Homo sapiens: one gene and its partner. The protein of the gene in region 1 purifies or fractionates together with the protein of each later gene. This does not show direct contact. Each region holds a gene or a part of one and is shown in the gene's direction. Other genes may lie near its edges.

The links.
Region 2: the proteins of MBNL2 (region 1) and ZC3HAV1L fractionate together in Homo sapiens (co-fractionation; one large-scale study listed by BioGRID). This does not show direct contact.

What each region holds. Positions count from the first base shown.
Region 1 is NC_000013.11:97,344,238-97,348,060, forward strand, and holds part of MBNL2 (muscleblind-like protein 2), read left to right. Parts: intron 1-2,566; coding exon 2,567-2,830; intron 2,831-3,823. UniProt on the Homo sapiens protein: Mediates pre-mRNA alternative splicing regulation. Acts either as activator or repressor of splicing on specific pre-mRNA targets. Inhibits cardiac troponin-T (TNNT2) pre-mRNA exon inclusion but induces insulin receptor (IR) pre-mRNA exon inclusion in muscle.
Region 2 is NC_000007.14:139,029,510-139,033,332, reverse strand, and holds part of ZC3HAV1L (zinc finger CCCH-type antiviral protein 1-like), read left to right. Parts: intron 1-3,823.

The sequences.
Region 1 (3,823 bases):
GGGTAAAATTTCTCTTTAATCAGAGCTGTAGAACTCATCTATGTATCTTACTGCTATATCCCTATGATATTCACTACAGCATTTCATAAGGGTGTATAAAGATTCTCATAGATTTTTCAGAGAGCTCCTTTAATTCCATTACTGATTAAAGGTGTTAGGTGATGCATCTGGTTAGGACGTACACAGTGCTTTCTGTTAGTGGGATTATTAGAGAATGTTCTTTCAATGTGCATTTGTTTAAATATTAACCCAATAAACCTTGAAGGCAATAAAATGTGGCTGCCTAATAACCTGTGCAAGTTTTAAAACTCAGAATTTCAAACTGCAAATATTTTAGAAGATATTTATTTTTTCACTTAGTTTCAATCTGGATGCCCAGATGAAGAGAATGGAAACTCTAATTGTTACTATTTTGAAAAGATCCAGCCTACCCTTGTCAATTACTGAATAGACCTTTCACAGGACTGGAAAAGTGTTTTGGGCTCCACCTGCTGGACCCACGGAGCTTTTGTGTTCAGTATGTGACTGTACTTTAGAAAACAAATTAAATCAGTGGAATTGGGAACAAATTGTCCTTCTCAACAGGGCTGGTAGACAAAGACATGTAAAAATGAATCACAATGATTTTAGCAGAGCGGCTTTTGGTTCATTTCAAACCAGGAATGAAGTCAGCTGCACACAAAGCACCTTGGTAGGAGCCTGATGGCTGGTCCACACCTATGATGCTATCAGACAGAAGTCATTCCATTGATGGAGGAAGGCTTGCTCAGAATCCGTGGGAACATCTTAGTGATTTATTTTGCGCATTTTATGAACTAAAGTTAGAATGTTGGCTAATATCCAAAGTAGGAGGAAACAATTAACAATCTGGTGATTTATGCTATCTACCTTCAAGCTGGCCTGGTCACTGGTCAGTGAAACAGTATTTCCTAAGTATGTCTGACTTCCACAATACTTGAATTTCATGTCAGGGGCCCTTCATATAACATCACTAATGATCAGCGTGATGATCATTTACATATCCACTTTGGAATTGGAGCCTAAAAATAAATAACTTACGATTCTACTCATAATTATTTCCTGCTAATATTTATGAGCAGAGAAGAATTATATAAGCAACATGCATATGTTATTTATGCTATTTTATGTTATCTATATGCAGGGCATAATTAAGAATACTCTTCAAATTCTAAAGAAATATTTTTTCATACAGTAAAATCTTGATCCACCAGAATTCTCAGGGGATAGAGAATCCTAGTTACTTGAGATTTCAGGATAATTTAGCATTAAAGAATTTTTAAAATAAACTATTTCCCTCCATTTTTCTTTCTCTATATCTCTTGCCGTATTTCTCTCCTTTTGTCTTTTTTTTCTTTTCTGTGCTGTCAAAAATAGTATAGTGACCTTAAAAATGAAAATTTTGGTGTCTTAGATATTGTTCTTCTGATTTATGATTATGTTATCTTTGTAGAGCAGGAGAGAAGGAGTGGGAAACAGGAGTGTTCAGATTCCCCCCACCCCACCCCACCCCACCCCCTTAGAGAGAGGAGGAACAAGTTTGTCGTCATTTTCTCTGATTCTTTTTGTACAGCTATGACCTGGTAGCTTGATATAGGTGAAATTATCCCTCCACACACACAAAAAAAAACCTATAGCATTGTCAGAATTGTCATACAAGTAGGTGATTGAAGATATAGAGAGAGGTAGATAGATTATAGGTGATTGACAGATTAAATAGATAGATTATAGGTAGGTAAGCAGGTATATAGATAGGTAGGTAACTAGATTAGATAGATGATTAATTAATTGATAGATTTTAGATAGATCAGTAGATGATAGATGATGGATGGCTGGATGGATAGATGATAGATGGATGAATGAATGGCTGGCTGGATGGACGGATAGATAGATGGTAGGTAGGTAGATAGATGATAGATAATATTAGGTTGGTGCAAAAGTAATTGCAGTTTTTACCATTAAAAATAATGATAGATTAACAGATAATAGATGGATGGATGGATGGATGGATGGATGGATAGATGGATGGGTGGATGGATAGATAGATGGATAATAGATAATAGAGGGATAGATTGATAGATGATAGATAATAGATGATGGATGAATGAACAGGTGGATAGATGATTGGATAGATTGATTGATGGTAGATGATAGATGAAGGAATGGATGCATGGATAAATAGATAGATGATAGATATATGGATGGATGGATAGACAGACAGACAGATCGATAGACAGCTGCATAATATGCTACCCAGGGACAATGGAGGCCTTGTTGCTTTTCCTTTGTTATTTTAGCTGAACTGCAGATTTCGTATTATTTTCTCAATATAGATTTTCACCCTAGAAAAGGCGGTAAAACAAAACTCAAATGACTGTGTCAGAGATTGTGGTTACCTGGGCTCCGCATAATCAATCTTTTCTTGTCAGTGGTACATGAGCCACCATTGAAAGCGAGGCAGCCTCCGCTCCTCCCGCGGTGGCCGGGGCCGCAGGGGCGCCTGGGCTCAGGCTTGCCTCTGCAGCGCGGCTCTTCTTCCCTGTCTTAGGTATGCAGGGAGTTCCAGCGAGGAAACTGTGCCCGGGGAGAGACCGACTGCCGCTTTGCACACCCCGCAGACAGCACCATGATCGACACAAGTGACAACACCGTAACCGTTTGTATGGATTACATAAAGGGGCGTTGCATGAGGGAGAAATGCAAATATTTTCACCCTCCTGCACACTTGCAGGCCAAAATCAAAGCTGCGCAGCACCAAGCCAACCAAGCTGCGGTGGCCGCCCAGGCAGCCGCGGCCGCGGCCACAGTCATGGTAAGTGCGGCCGCCCGCCGCCCCTGCACCCCGGCGCCTCTGCGGAGGCCGCTCCGGGCTGGGACTTGGATGTTCTTCCAAACACTCGGGAAACATGGAAGGCTGCTATTCCTGCTGCTCCGCTGCCTAAGTTTTGCTGTTGTTTTCCCCCTTTTTGTTTTGTTTTGTTTTCCCCTCCTGCCCCCCTTCAGCACAATAAGTAAATCCCTCAGGTGCAGGGAAAGTCCTGGGGTCCCTGAGCTCCGTTCCCCCTCCTAGGGTGGCGGAGATTGAGTGTGCTCACTTAGGGTCTTTTTAAGAGAGGCTCAGGGGCCTTGTAATGAACATGAAGGTGGGCACCGCTTCGGAGAGGGGAAAGAAAGGTGCATTTCTGCACCTGAGCACGAGGAGGCACCCAGCTCCTTGGAGCAGCCACGGAGGACATCTGTGGCCTAAGAGAAGCCCAGAGAGTGATTTGGCTTTTCGCTACTCCCATTTTCTCCTCTTCTTTCACTTATTACAAGGGCAATGCTGGTCAGATTCCCCATCTCAATGAGGTTTTATGCAGAATAGCAATGCATGAAACAGATGAAAGTGGAGCCATCCTGGCTGGTGCAGAAAGAAAAAAAGACCTGTGACCTAGGCTTGCTTCCCTGAGTCACCCTACTGTCATTAGAGACCAGCAGTACATCATCATTATCATCGCCTGGGAGCCTGCTCAGAATCTCGGAGAGCCTAACTGTCCCTTAGAGACCAGATGCACCATTATTAGGATCACCTAGAAGCCTGTGGAGCCTCCAGAATCCTCAGCCTCACCCCAGACCTCAGGGAATCAGAATTTAAGTTGTAAAACATCTCCCAGGTGTTTTGTATGCACATTAACATTTGAGAAGCACCTGCCTAGACATTGCTTATCAAACTTGGCTACATTTTGGAACAACCTGAAGGGTCTGACCTGACATCTGTCCCTTTCCCTGAAGTTTCTTATTTTCTTATTTAGTTGGTCTGGTGTGG
Region 2 (3,823 bases), on another chromosome or scaffold:
TGGATTCAAGAAGAAACGGAAAGCCAAAATAGTGTCATAAAAATTTTTAAAATAAAAGCATTAAACAAACCTCAAAGCATTAGTTAGAAGGCTTGCACAAGAAAACATCAGACTTATATAGTTTTTTTTTTTTTGAGACAGGGTCTTACTCTCTCACACAGGCTGGAAGTACCTCGGCTCACTGTAGCCTCTGCCTCCTGAGTTCAAGTGATTCTCCCACCTCAGTCTCCTGAATAGTTGGGACTACAGGCACGTGCCACCATGCCCAGCTAATTTTTGTACTTTTTGGTAGAGATAGCGTTTCACCATGTTGGCCGGGCTGGTCTTATATGCCTGACCTCAAGTGATCCCTCTGCCTCAGCCTCCTAAAGTGCTGGGATTACAGGCGTGAGCCACTGCGCCTGGCCAGGCTTATATAGTTTCATAGTTGAATTCTATCAAATTTTTGTCTTTATTGAAGTGTAGTTGACAAATAAAAATTTTATATTTACAGTGTACAATGTGGTGTTTTAATATATTTACATTGTGAATTGATTGCAATGATTAAGCTAATTAGCATACCATTACTTTACATGGCTATTATTTTTTGGGTGTGGTAAGGACAGCAATTTTCAGGTATACAGTATGTTATTTTTTTAAATTTTATTTTATTTTTTATTTATTTTATTTTATTTTTATTTTTATTTTATTTTATTTATTTCTTTTTTTTTGAGATGGAGTCTCACTCTATCACCCAGGCTGGAGTGCAGTGGTGAGGTCTCGGCTCACTGCAAGCTCTGCTCCCGGGTTCATGCCATTCTTCTGCCTCAGCCTCCCGACAGGCGCCCACCATGATGCCCAGCTAATTTTTTGTATTTTGTTTAGTAGAGATGGGGTTTCACCTTGTTAGCCAGGATGGTCTCGATCTCCTGACCTCGTGATCCGCCCACCTCAGCCTCCCAGAGTGCTGGGATTATAGGTGTGAGCCACTGTGCCTGGCCATTATGTTATTATTAACTACAGTCACCTTGCCGTACAGTGGATTTCCAGAAATTCATCCTGTTTAATTGAAACTTTGTTCCCTTCGACCTACATATCCCTATTCTCCTTAATTTTAACAAATCTATAAGGAACAGGCTGTTCCTTATATTTGGAGTAGGTGTAGGATCTATTTTCCATGATCTCCAATTCTTGAACCACTATCATACTAATTAAAGTAGTTTATCTTTCATTTTTAAAGTTTATTTACTCTTTTAGAGACATGGTCTCGCTGTGTCACCCAGGCTGGAGTGCAGAGACAGGGTTTTGCCATGTTGCCCAGGCTGGTCATAGCTCACTGCAACCTCGATCTCCTGGGCTCAAGCAATCCTCGCACTTCAGCCTCTCGAGTAGCTGGGACTGCAGGTGTACACCACCGCACCCAGCTACTTTTTTTTGTTTTGTTTTTTTGAGATGGAATCTTGCTCTATCGCCCAGGCTGGAGTGCAGTGGTGTGATCTCAGCTCACTGCAATCTCCACCTCCCTGGTTCAAGCGATTCTCCTGCCTCAGCCTCCCAAGTAGCTGGGATTGCAGGCGCTTGCCACCATACCCAGCTAGTTTTTTGTATTTTGAGTAGAGATGGGGTTTGTCATTTTGGCCAGGCTGGCCTTGAACTCTTGACCTCAAGTGATCCGCCCACCTTGGCCTCCCAAAGTGCTGGGATAACAGGCGTGAGCCATAGCGCCTGGCCCCCAGATACTTTTTTTTGTTTTTGTTTGTTTGTTTTGTAGACAGAGTCTTGCTCTGTCGCCCAGACTGGAGTGCAGTGGCGTGATCTTAGCTCATTGCCACCTCTGCCTCCCAGGTTCAAGCAATTCTCGTGCCTCAGCCTCCCTAGTAGCTGGGACTGCAAGCAAGTGCCACCATGCCTAGTTAATTCGTTGTGTTTTTAGTAGAGACAGGGTTTCACCATGTTGCTCAGGCTGATCTCAAACTCCTGAGCTCAGGCAATCCGCCTGCCTTGGCCTCCCACAGTGTTAGGATTACAGGCATGAGCCACTGTGCCCAGTCCACTTTTTAAATTTTTCTGTAGAGACAGAGTCTTGCTGTGTTGCCTAGGCTGGTCTTGAACTCCTTGGCTCAAGCAATTTGCCATCCTTGGTCTCCCAAAGTGCTAGGAGTACAGCCATGAGCCACTGTGCCTGTCTAATTTTGTTTGTTTGTTTAATCAGTTCATGTCTCCTTTTCCAGATAAGCTTTAGAATCACTTAAATTCCTAAAACTATTTTAAAGGAATTCTTTGAGAAGGGTAGAAATTGCATTAAAGTTACGAATTTATTTTAGAAAATTGGCATCACAATTATAAATAGGATGCTATTTCATTTTAAACCAGGTCATCTGTGTCTTGTAGGATTTCCCATATTTTAGATTTGACTGATTACATTCCTGTAGTACTATTGAACATGTTCCTGTATCCCTCAAATTTTGATCAGATTTAGGATTTATTTCACTTTATTTAATTAATTAATTAATTAATTAATTATTATTATTTTTTGAGATGGAGACTCACTCTGTCGTCCAGCCTGGAGTGCAGTGGCGTGATCTCGGCTCACTGCAACCTCTGCCACCCAGGTTAAGCAATTCTGCCTCAGCCTCCCAAGCAGCTGGGATTACAGGTGCCACCATGACTGGCTAATTTTTGTATTTTTGGTAGAGACGGGGTTTCACCATATTGGCCAGGCTGGTCTTGAACTCCTGACCTTTTGATCCACCCACCTTGGCCTCCCAAAGTGCTAGGATTACAGGTGTGAGCCACCACACCGGGCCTTATTTATTTTTGAAATGGAGTCTCGCTCTGTCGCCCAGGCTGGAGTGCAGTGGCGCAATCTCAGCTCACTGCAACCTCCGCCTCTATTTTATTTTATTTTTAAGACGGAGTCTCGCTGTGTTGCCCAGGCTGGAGTGCAATGGCACAATCTTGGCTCACTGCAACCTCCACCTCCCCGGTTCATGTAATTCTTCTGCCTCAGCCTCCCCAGTAGCTGGAATTACAGGCGTGTGCCATCATGCCTGGCTAACTTTTGTATTTTTAATAGAGTCAGGGTTTCACCGTGTTGGCCAGGCTGTTATGAACTCCTGACCTCAGGTGATCCTTCTGCCTTGGCCTCCCAAAGTGCTGGGATTACAGGTGTGAGGCACCGCGCCCAGCCAGGATTTATTTTATAGCAAGAGTTTTTTTACGTGTGCAGCATTGTTAGGGTGACTCAGCAGCCCATTTGCCTGGGACTGAGGGGTTGCCGGGGATGTCAGACTTTCATAGTAAAACCTGGACAGTTCTATTTCTGTTGCATCACATCAGGAGGCATATAATGTCATCTTTGTGTGAGCGGCCAAGACTGATGCGTGGTTTCAGGGTCAACAGCCTGATCCCATCATTATAAAGTTCCCTATCAATGTGGTCTTGGTGTGTCTGGGATAGACCCAGTTTATATTAGTTGTCCCAGTGTGATTATTAATAGTGCTCCCTTGCAGCCTAAAAATGCCCTCGTCTGGATCATAAATTAGATCTTTGTGCCACCCGTTGAAACTGGTTTCCCTGGAAGCAGAGCCTGAGATAGAGACCCAGGTATGTGTGATTTTTTTGAGGGCGGGCTTTTCAGGAAAACCCAGTGTGGGAGAGAGGGAAGCAGGGTCTAAGGAAGGAAAAGCTACAAGCACATAAGGTCTGGCCTTGACTTCATTCATGGGGAGCTGTGGAACAAAGATCACGTTGAGTCTAGCTTTGAGGCACTCTAGCATTTTTTTAGCTTTATCTAAGTCATTCATTGGCTACAGGCTTTGGGGACAGAGGGCAGTTCAGCTGA